Regions from separate parts of the Homo sapiens genome. Here region 1 is linked to region 2. The links come from fine-mapping of genetic effects on gene expression. A gene starts in region 2. The other region holds a variant in brackets. All regions are shown on one strand. Distances are from middle to middle. Region 1 has its middle 24 kb from the start of NWD1. Region 2 holds the start of TMEM38A (transmembrane protein 38A).

What was found. PIP is the estimated chance that this variant, and not a neighbour inherited with it, causes the effect. A credible set is the group of variants that fine-mapping cannot tell apart.
Region 1: its variant is the best candidate, but not a certain one, in a credible set for the expression of TMEM38A in sun-exposed skin (GTEx, PIP 0.78).

What each region holds. Positions count from the first base shown.
Region 1 is chr19:16,693,604-16,698,971 of GRCh38, reverse strand. No RefSeq gene overlaps it. Among named protein-coding and RNA genes, the nearest start is that of NWD1, 24 kb to the left of the region's middle. The variant A/G (reference allele first, on the strand shown) is at 2,811.
Region 2 is chr19:16,658,974-16,664,341 of GRCh38, reverse strand. It overlaps TMEM38A (transmembrane protein 38A), which reads right to left and starts at 3,203. Exons shown (of 6, transcript NM_024074.4): 1 at 3,001-3,203. The coding sequence starts at 3,124. SMIM7 (small integral membrane protein 7) reads left to right here and starts at 4,198. Exons shown (of 5, transcript NM_024104.4): 1 at 4,198-4,257; 2 at 4,342-4,383; 3 at 4,895-4,947. The coding sequence starts at 4,232. RefSeq lists an enhancer at 2,042-2,850 and silencers at 3,136-3,385, 3,406-3,605.

The sequences.
Region 1 (5,368 bases), 35 kb before region 2:
TCCAGTCACTCCTCCTAGCCATCCTAAGAGGAAATTGAGGCTCAGAGAAGGGGAGTTACTTGCCCAAGCTACGTATCTCGGAGATTAAAAGCCAGGGTTTGGCCAGGCATGGTGGCTAACACCTGTAATCCCAGCACTTTGGGAGACCGAGGCGGGTAGGATCACTTGAGGTCAGAAGTTCAAGACCACCCTGGCCAACATGTTGAAACCCTGACTCTACTAAAAATACAAAAATTAGCCAGGCATGGTGGCTCTTGCCTGCAATCCCAGCTACACGGGATGCTGTGGCAGGAGAATCACTTGAACCCGAGAGGCGGAGGTTGCAGTGAGCCAAGATGGCACCACTGCACTCCAGCTTGGGCAACAGAGTGAGAATCTGTCAAAAAAAAAAAAAAAAAAAAAAACAAAGACAGGATTTGAACAGATTTGGGAAACCCCAAAGGCTGCTCTCTTTTTCCTTTTCTTTTTAGATTAAGGTAGAATTTAGCCACAAAATTCTGCAAGGTTTTTTTTGTAGTGTTTCTTTGTGGGTTTTTTGTTTTGTTTGTTGTTTGTTTTTTTGTTTGTTGTTTTGAGACAGGTCTGGCTCTGTTGCCCAGGCTGCAGTGCAGTGGTGCAATTTCGGCTCACTGCAACCTCTGCCTCCCAGGCTCAAGTGATTCTCCCACATCAGCCTCCTGAGTAGCTAGGACTACAGGCACATGCCACCATGCCCGGCTAATTTTTGTATTTTTTGCAGAAATGGGGTTTCACCATGATACCCAGGCTAGTCTCAAAGTCCTGGCCTCAGGTGATCCTCCCACCTCAGCCTCCCAAAAGGGCTACGCTGCCGGGCGAATTCTGCAAGTTTATACAAACATATACAGTTGTGTAACTACTGCCACGTTAAAAATGCAGAACAGTCCCTTCCCTCCCAAAATTCCTCTGTCTCTCTTGTGGATAATCTCTCCTTCCATCTCAACTCCTGGCAGCCACTGATCTGTTTTCTATACTTAAAATTTTGTCTTTCCTTTTCTTTTCTTTTTTTTTTTTTTGAGACGGAGTCTCGCTCTGTCACCCAGGCTGGAGTGCAGTGGTGCACGATCTCAGCTCACTGCAACCTCTGCCTCCTGGGTTCAAGCAATTCTCCTGCCTCAGCCTCCTGAGTAGCTGGGACTACAGGCACCTGCCACCCCCAGCTAATTTTTGTATTTTTAGTAGAGGCAGGGTTTCAGGCTGGTCTCAAACTCCTGACCTCAAATGATCCACCCACCTCGGCCTCCCAAAGTGCTGGGATTACAGGTGTGAGCCACTGCACCTAGCCCAAAATTTTGTATTTCTAAAATGACCTACAGCCGAGTATGTGGCACGCACCTGCAATCCCTGCCACTCAGGAGGGTGAGGCGGGAGGATCCCTTGAGCCTGGGAATTTGAGGCTGTAATGATCCATGTTCCTGCCACTGCACTCCAGCCTGGGTGACAAAGCAATACCCCATCTCTAAAGATAAAATGTCCCGCCAATGGGAGCACACAGTCTCTTGGGTCTGGATTCTTTCATTTAGCAAATGCATTTGAGATTCAACCACACTGCTGTAGAAGGTCACTCCTTTTCATTGCTGTGTAATGTTCCATCACATGCATAAACCAGGTGGCTCATCCGCTTACCAACTGATGGACATTTGGGATGTTCCCAGTTTTTGGTGATTACCAAAAAAAAAAAAAATAGGTGAATTTTTGTTTCACCACAATGGGACTGTTGTGTTTATAGGGTAAGTGATGTTTAATTTAATAAGAAACTATCAGGGATTGTTGTGTTTATAGGGTAAGTGATGTTTAATTTAATAAGAAACTATCAGTCTGGGCAAGGTGGCTCACACCTGTAATCTCAGCACTTTGGGAGGCTGAGGCAGGAGGATCACTTGAGCCCAGGAGTTTCAGACCAGCCTGGGCAACAGGGCGAGACATCATCTATATAAAAAATACAAAAATTATCTGGATGTGGTGATGTGTGCCTGTAGTCCCAGCTACTCAAGCGGCTGAGGCGGGAGGATCACATGAGCCCAGGAGGTCGAGGCTGAAGTGACCTATGACTGCACCACTGGACTCCAGCCTGGATGACAGAGTGATACCCTATCTCAAATAAATACATAAATAAATAAATTTAAAAGAAACTGTCCAATTGTCTCCCACCAGCAGTGTGCGAGCTCCAGCTGCCCCCAAATCTTTACCTGCACCAGGCATTGTCAGTTACTTTAATTTAATCCATCCTTAAAGGACGCTGGACACAGAGACTCACATCCCTTTGTTTTGGGAGACCAAGGTAGGAAGATCACCTGAGTCCAAAATTAGCCCCAAGGTGATGGTATTAGGAGGTGCGGCCCTTGGGAGGTGATTAGGTCATGAGGATGTGGCCCTCATAATGGGATTAGTGCCCTTCCACAAGAGGCCCCCAAGAAACTCCTTGATCTTTCTACCATGTGGGGACACCAAAAGAAGACACCATCTGTGAACCAGATAGCCAGCCCTTACCAGACAGTGAATCTGCCAGCATTTTGATCTTGAACTTCCCAGCCTCCAGAACCATGAAAAATAAATTTCTGTTGTTTACAAGCCACCAGTTTATAGTATTTTGTTGTAGCACACTGAAAGGACTAAAACAGGAGATAAGGTCTTTTTTTTTTAAATTTTTTTAGCACCAAACTGATTGAGATAAGGTCTTTAAAGAGACAATTAAGTTAAAATAGTCAGTCAAGCAGGGTGGCTCACATGCCTGTAATCCCAGCACTTTGGGAGGCTGAGGTGGGTGGATCACTTGAGATCAAGAGTTTAAG[A/G]CCAGCCTGGCCAACGTGGTGAAACTCCATCTCTACTAAAAATACAAAAATTAGCCAGGCATGGTGGCACGTGCCTGTAATCCCAGCTACTCGGGAGGCTGAGGCATGAGAATCACTTGAACCCGGGAAGTGGAGGTTGCAGTGAGCCGAGATGGCGCCACTGCACGCCAGCCTAGGCCACAAAGCCAGACTCCATCTCAAAAAAAAAAAAAAAGATAATTAAGTTTTAAAAAAAGTCTATAGGTGGGCCCTGATCTAATTCACTGGTGTCCTCGTAGGCAGAGGAGACTAGGATACAGACATACGAAGAGGGAAGACTATACGAGGACAGAGAAGGCGGCCGTCTGCCACCCAAGCAGAGAGGCCTTGAGAAACAAAACCAACTGACACCTTGATGTCAAACTTCCACCCTCAAGAATTAGGGAAAAATAAATGTCTGTGGCTTAAGCGACTCTGTCTGGAGTATGTTACTGCAGCCTATTCATTTATTTATGAGACAGGGTCTCACTCTGTCATCCACGCTGGAGTGCAGTGGTGCAATCTCAGCTCATTGCAGCCTCGAACTCCTGGGCTCAAGCGATCCTCCCACCTCTGCCTCCTGAGTAGCTGGGATTACAGGCTCACATCACCACAACTGGCTAATTTTTTTTTTTTTTTTTTTCTGCAGAGACTGGGTCTCACTGTGTTGGCCAGGCTGGTCATGAACTCCTCAGCTCAAGTGATCCTTTGGCCTCGGCCTCCCAAAGTGCGGGGATTACAGGCATGAGCCACCATGCCCAGACTTTTTTTCCTTATAATTGAAAGCTTCTTTTTTTATAGCTTTACTGAGGCATAACTGATAGATGAACTATGCATATATAAAATGAAAACTTTTAAGTACTTAGGTTGAATGAGTGGGAAAAAAAGAAGTAAAAAATAATTAATTAAAAATAAATAAAAAAGAGGCCGGCGTGGTGGCTCAAGCCTGTAATCCCAGCACTTTGGGAGGCTGAGGCAGGTGGGTCATTTGAGGCAAGGAGTTCGAGACCAGCCGGGCCAATATGGCAAAACCGTCTCTACTAAAAATACAAAAATTAGCCAGGCGTGGTGGTGGGCACCTGTAATCCCAGCTACTCTGGAGGTTGAGGCAGGAGAATTGCTTGAACCCAGGAGGCAGAGGTTACAGTGAGCCAAGATTGCACCACTGCCCTCCAGCCTGGGCGACAGAGCGAGACTCTGTCTCTCTAAATAAATAAATAAGAAAAAAGTTAATTTTTTTTTAAATCTTAAGTAATCAAAGCAAAATTTAGACCAGGCACAGGCACGGTGGCCCACGCCTGTAATCCCAGCACTTTGGGAAGCCGAGGCGGGCAGATCACCTGAGGTTAGGAGTTTGAGACAAGCTTGGCCAACATGGTGAAACCCTGTCTCTGCTAAAAATACAAAAATTAGCCAGGTATGGCGGTGGGCACCTGTAATCCCAGCTACTCAGGAGGCTGAGGCAGGAGAATCACTTGAACCCAGGAGGCAGAGGTTGCAGTGAGCCAAGATCGTGCCACTGCACTCCAGCCTGGGTGACAGAGCAAGACTCCATCTCAAAAAACAAAACAAAACAAAAACCCAAAAGTAAAATTTAATAGATTCAGACATGGGTATAGACCCAAGAAACCAGCACAATCAAAGCCATCAGCAGATCCATCACCCGAGTTTCCTGGTGCCACTGCAAAATTCCTCTCACCTGCCCTACCCTGTCCTTCTTTCCCCAACCACATGCTGATCAGCTTTCTGTTACAATAGTTTGCTTTTTCTAGGATTTCAGATAAATGGATGCCTATATTACACATTCTTTTTTGTATGGCTTTTTCCCACCAATCTGGATACATTCGAGACTCATTCATGTTTTTGCATGTTCACCACCTCCACCGCCTTTTTTTTTTTTTCGCTGAACAGTAGGCAATACTATGGGCGGAGCACAGCTGTTCATTTATTCACATTTTTGTTTTTTTAAAGACAGAGTCTTGCTCTGTCACCCATGCTTCAGTACAGTGGCACCATCACAGCTCACTGCAGCCTCAACCTCCTGGGCTAAAACAGTCCTCCGTCCTGCACCTCCCAAAGCCCTGGGATTATAGGTGTGAGTCACCCATGACCACCCTATGTTTAACTTATAGTGTTTTTGTTTTGTTGGTTTTTTTTTTTTGAGACGGAGTCTTGCTCTGTCACCCAGGCTGGAGTGCAGTGGCGCAATCTCAGCTCACTGCAACCTCTGCCTCCTGGGTTCAAGTGATTCTCCCGTCTTAGCCTCCTGAGTAGCTGGGATTACAGGCAGGTGCCACCATGCCTGGCTAATTTTTGTATTTTTACAAAATTACACCTTGTTGGGGTTTCACCATGTTGGTCAGGCTGATCTCAAACTCCTGATCTCAAGTGATCTGCCCACCTCGGCCTCCCAAAGTGCTGGGATTACAGGGGTGAGCCACTGTGCCAGGCTAACATTTTGTTTTTTGTTTTGTTTTGTTTTGGTTTTTTTTTTTTTTTTTTTTTTTTTTTTGGAGATAGAATCTTGCTCTGTCACCCAG
Region 2 (5,368 bases):
GGATTCAAGCTATTCTCATGTCTCAGCCTCCCAAGTACCTGGGATTACAGGCGTGCGCCACCACACCTGGCTATTTTTTTGCATTTGTAGTGGAGACGGGGTTTTGTCATGTTGCCCAGGCTGGTTTCAAAGTCCTGGGCTCAAGTGATCCACCCGCCTCGCCTCCCAAAGTGCTGGGATTACAGGCATAAGCCATCACATCTGGCCTCCAACACCTTTCTTTTCTAAGGAAACCAATCTCACATCAATTGTACTGATTCTTAGAGTCAAGCAGACCTGGGCTGAGTCCCGAGGCTGCAACTGACCAGCCATGGGACCACAGGCTCATTGTGTATTTAAGATAGCTTAGCCACTATTTCCTGTTTCCCCAGTTATGAAAGGAGGAGGTTGAACTGGGTGGAGTATCCTCAGCCCTGATAACAGACATCAGTCACTGAGGGAGGGGAGATTAATATTCTGATTCAATTGGTGGGGGGTGGAGATAGGGGGTTTAAAAGCTCCTAGGAGGCCGGGCGCAGTGGCTCACACCTGTAATCCCAGCACTTTGGGAGGCCGAGGCAGGCGGATCACAAGGTCAGGAAATCGAGACCATCCTGGCTAATACGGTGAAACCCTGTCTCTACTAAAAATACAAAAAAAAAAAAAATTAGCCGGGCATGGTGGTGGGCGCCTGTAGTCCCAGCTACTTGGGAGGCTGAGGCAGGAGAATGGTGTGAACCCAGGAGGCGGAGCTTGCAGTGAGCAGAGGCGGCGCCACCGCACTCCAGCCTGGGCGACAGAGCGAGACTCCGTTTCAAAAAAAAAAAAGAAAAGAAAAAAAGCTCCCAGGAGCGTCTCATGAATTCATGAATAGCCAGGGTTTGGAACCACTTCTCAGCCTTCAGGAACCTTCAGGCTCTGGCACTTAGAGCCTGGATGGCTTATTCTAGGACTTCTGCAGAAATATCTTGAACCTTCCTGCAAGTTCCCAGGCAGCTTGGAGACCTCTTTTCTCAAGACATTTGTGTCCTACATTCCCACAGGGCTCCAACCCTCCTCAGTTTCAGATTTTTTTTTTTTTCGAGACAGAGTCTTGCTCTGTCGCCCAGGCTGGAGTGCAATGGCGTGATCTCGGCTCACTGCAACCTCCGCCTCCCAGGTTCAAGTGATTCTCCTGCCTCAGCCTCCCAAGCAGCTAGGATTACAAGCATGTGCCACCATGCCTGGCTAATTTTTTTATTTTCAGTAGAGACGGGGTTTCTCCATGTTGGCCAGGCTGGTCTCGAACTCCTGACCTCAGGCGATCTGCCCGTCTTGGCCTCCCAAAGTGCTGGGATTACAGGCGTGAGCCACTGTGCCCAGCCAGTTTCAGATTTTCTAAGGTTCTGCAACTGCCCAAGGAACTGGCCTGAACCACCAAGAATTCTTCCCCAGAAAGGAAAGATAGCCCCATGTTCATGCTAGGACAACACAAAAGCCTATTTTGTTTTGCAAAGTAATGTTCTCCAGGATAGCTTTTAAGAAAATAGGCTCTGGCATGTGGATAGGCAAAAATAGAATAAAAATTCCTAGCAAATAGAGTGTAATCCTGTTAGCATAAGAGCGTGCATTGGCTGGGTGCAGTGGCTCACGTCTGTAATCCCAGCACTTTGGGAGGCCTAGGTGGGTGGATCACAAGGTCAGGAGATCGAGACTATCCTGGCCAACATGGTGAAGGCTTGTCTCTACTAAAAATACAAAAATTAGCCAAGTGTAGTGGCGGGTGCCTGTAGTCCCAGCTACTCAGAAGGCTGAGGCAGGAGAATCGCTTGAACCTGGAAGGTGGAGGTTGCAGTGAGCCGAGATCACGCCACTGCACTCCAGCCTGGGCGACAGAGCGAAACTCCATCTAAAAAAAAAACCGCAAAAAAAAAAAAAAAAAAAAAAGCGTGCATTTACGTTTATAACTATATAGCCGTAAATGAATAGAAGAGACATCAAGAAAGGTGGCTGGCCACCAGTATGTTGACAGTAATTCTCTTTTTTTCCTTTGCCCTTTTCAGTTTGAGTTTTTAGTAAACAGGGGCGCTTATTTTTATCCTCTGAGAATAAAGCTATTTCCTTTCTGAGCTATAGTGGTAATTTACATCTAAGTGGGAGAAAGGCTTATGAAGTTTGGGGTTCCTTTATTTTTCTAAGCCTAAAATCTATTATCTAGTAAGTTGCTGGTGTTCTAGAATAACGGTGAACAAGAAACATTTAAACATTTGTTCACGGTGAACCTTTTATAAAAATAGAACACGTTCTAAGGAAGCCATTCATCCTCATTTTAAAAATTAAGAAGCAGGCTGTACCCTCCTGTGACCTCCCCAGCGTGGAGTCTGGAGCTGAGATGGAGGACACTGACCCCAAGTCACCCAGCCTTGGGGCCGGTTCTGCTCCGTAAGTGGAAAGGATCTGGAGCCAGGGCTGGAAGAATTCCCGTGGGGGCTCGGAGATTCAGCACCGTGGGGGAAGGGAGGGGAGTGGAGGGTGCTGGGCAGTTGCAGTGGGGAGGAGAACCGGTGTCACTTTCGCTGAACCTGACCGCAGCCCCCAGCGCAGTGGCCCTTATAGACACTCCGCTGGCGCTCTCAATCCGCGTGCCAAGGTCAAGGAGGGAGGTCACACCTGCGCGCGGCCAGAACAGATGCACCGACCCCCACCTGCACCCTCGCCACAGCCGGCGCCCCTTGCCCAAGTTCCTGCAGCTCTGACCCAACCAGGAGCCCCGACCCCAAGCACCTGTTCCCCCTCCTCTAAACCCGCGCACGCCTCTCCTTCCCCTCCCCCAGCTTCATCGTCCTGGGGGCTTCTCCCCCGGGCTCACCCCGGCGTGAGAGAACCCCACGATTCTAGCGCCTGCCTACTCCCACGATGCAATCCTTGAACCTGTCCCTCGCTCCCTCCACCACGCACGGGCTTCCCCTCTCTGCGACCCCCGAGCTGCCCCGGCCCGCGCCACCCGCTGCCGGTCCCCTCCAGCCCCCCGCCCCGGCTCACCTGGCTCATACTTGAGGTAGAGGATGGAGACGATGAAGTAACTGAGGTCGAAGACGGGGAAGAGCGGCACCCGCGAGAAGCTGAGCGCCAGTTCGCCCAGGCTCAGCGCCGAGAGCAGCTCCATGGCGCCCGCCTGCCCGCCTGCCGGGTGCCACCCGGGGCCCCGGCCTCGTCCGTCCCGCCGCCCGCGGCCCGGCGACTGCGCCCCCGCAGCTGGGCCCGCCCCCGCCCGCCAGGCGCCACCCCAGGCCCGGCCCCCGCGGGAGAGGAGGGGCGACGGCCCACCCCGGGACAGGTGGTGGGGACGCCCAGCACCACGGACGCAGCTGGACGGTCGGGCGTCCCAGGCGTTGACCCTCCTGCCATCGCTACCCCGTTCCGCCCAGCGAGGCGGGGTGCGGGGCACCCGTGCAAGGCGAGGGAGGCTGGGGAGCTGCCTGTTCTGGGGGCCCGTCCCTCACGGAGCCCACCCACGCGGGACGCCCGTTCCCAGGGGGCCGGATCGGCCAGGACTTTGTCCCCGTGGGCTCAATTAGGACCCCGATCTTCGGTGGAGCCCAGTGAGGACCCCTACGCCATGGTGGGACCCCATGAATCAGAACCCCTGTTCCCCGTGGAGATAGGTTAGGACCTCGGTCCTCTGTGGAGCCCCGTCAAGACTTTTCTGCCCCATAGGGTCCGTTCGATCAGGAACCCCGTCTCCGGTGGGGCTCTGCAAATCAGGACGTCTTGTGGGGGGCAGCTCAGTGGGAACCCCCGTTCCCCATGGGGCCCAGGAGGATCTCATTTTAGAGCCCAGTTGGTTGGGGCACCCGTTTCTAGGGACCCCACTGCGTCAGGACCCCGCACCCTGTGCAGCTCAGGAGTCAAAGGATTCCTTTTGTCCAGAAGCCCAATTTGGGACCCCAGAAAGTGAGTAGGAATTGCTGCCCAGCTAACCCTACGGCATCGAGACCTCACGCATGCGCGGCACGCTTCGAACGCGTGACCCAATCCCGCCCCCAGGAGACCCCGCTCCTCCCATTCTGGCTCTCGGGGCCTCCCCAGCGAGGTGGGGCGCTCGCGCTCCCCTAAGGGGGTCTGGCCTGCAGAGGGCGGGACCCTCCCAGCCTTGACCTTCGATTGGCCCAGCCCTCGCCACTGTTGCTTTAGGATTGGTCGGCTTGTGCTCCTCTCCCCTCCCTCCCTGGGGCTTCCGCTTCCGGTTCTGACGGACGCTTCGGCCGTAACGATGATCGGAGACATCCTGCTGTTCGGGTAATTAGGGGGACCAGAGGCTGGGAAGAGAGAGCCAGGCAGGACGCGGGGGCGCCCCTAGTAACTGTAATTCTCCCTCTGCAGGACGTTGCTGATGAATGCCGGGGCGGTGCTGAACTTTAAGCTGTGAGTAGGTCGCGGCCGGACTGCGGCTCCATCCGGGGAACCCGTAGCCCCGCCCTCATAAGCGTGATCTCGGCGCACTTCTCAGGCCCCGCCCCCAAGCCGCAGGCCCCGCCCTATCCGCCCTCTGGGCACGCCTCCAGCCTGGTTTATCTTCCTCGCCCCCCACCCCCCGAGAGACCTTAAACCCATACTCTCCGTTCCTTGGTTGTCCCTCTGTTCACCTTCCTGGAGAGCTTAAGCCCCATCCCCCAAGAAATAGCCCCACCGCGGACCTTCCGCCCTGCACCCGCACTGTCGGGCCACTTTGTAAACGGTCGGTGGCTGCTGACCTGGCTGTGATTGTCCGGGCAGTGGGGGCCCAGAGAAGGGTATTGAACGTCAGAGGTCACACAGCAAGTTTGCGGCAGGGCCAGGGCTGAAACTTAGTGTTTGTGGCCTTCTGAGCTGGGGGTCAGGGGGCTGAGGACTCTATGTCCCATTGAAAGTGGACACTGTCTGCTCCTCTTTGTAGGAAAAAGAAGGACACGCAGGGCTTTGGGGAGGAGTCCAGGGAGCCCAGCACAGGTAAGGTCTAATTGGATCCTGGAATTGCATGGTCCACTTCAGAGGACAGTTCTGTTTCGCCAAGCCCTACCTTCGTTTTCTTTCTTTCTCTTTTTTTTTTTTTTTTTTTTTTGACACAAGGTCTTGCTCTGTTGTCCAGGTTGGAGTGCAGTGGTGCGATCATGGCTCACTGCAGACTCGACCTCCTGAGCTAAAGTGATCCTTCCACCTCAGCCCCCTTAGTAGCTGGGATTACAGGTGTGTGCCACCATGCCAGGCTAAATTTTGTATTTTTTGTAGAGATGGGGTTTCTCCACGTTGCCCAGGCCGGTCTCGAACTCCTGGGTTCAAGTGATCCCTGCCTTGGCCTCCCGAAGAGCTGGGATTACAGGCGTGAGCCACAAGTTTTCTCTTTAATTGAGCGTGTGTGTGAGTGGGAGAT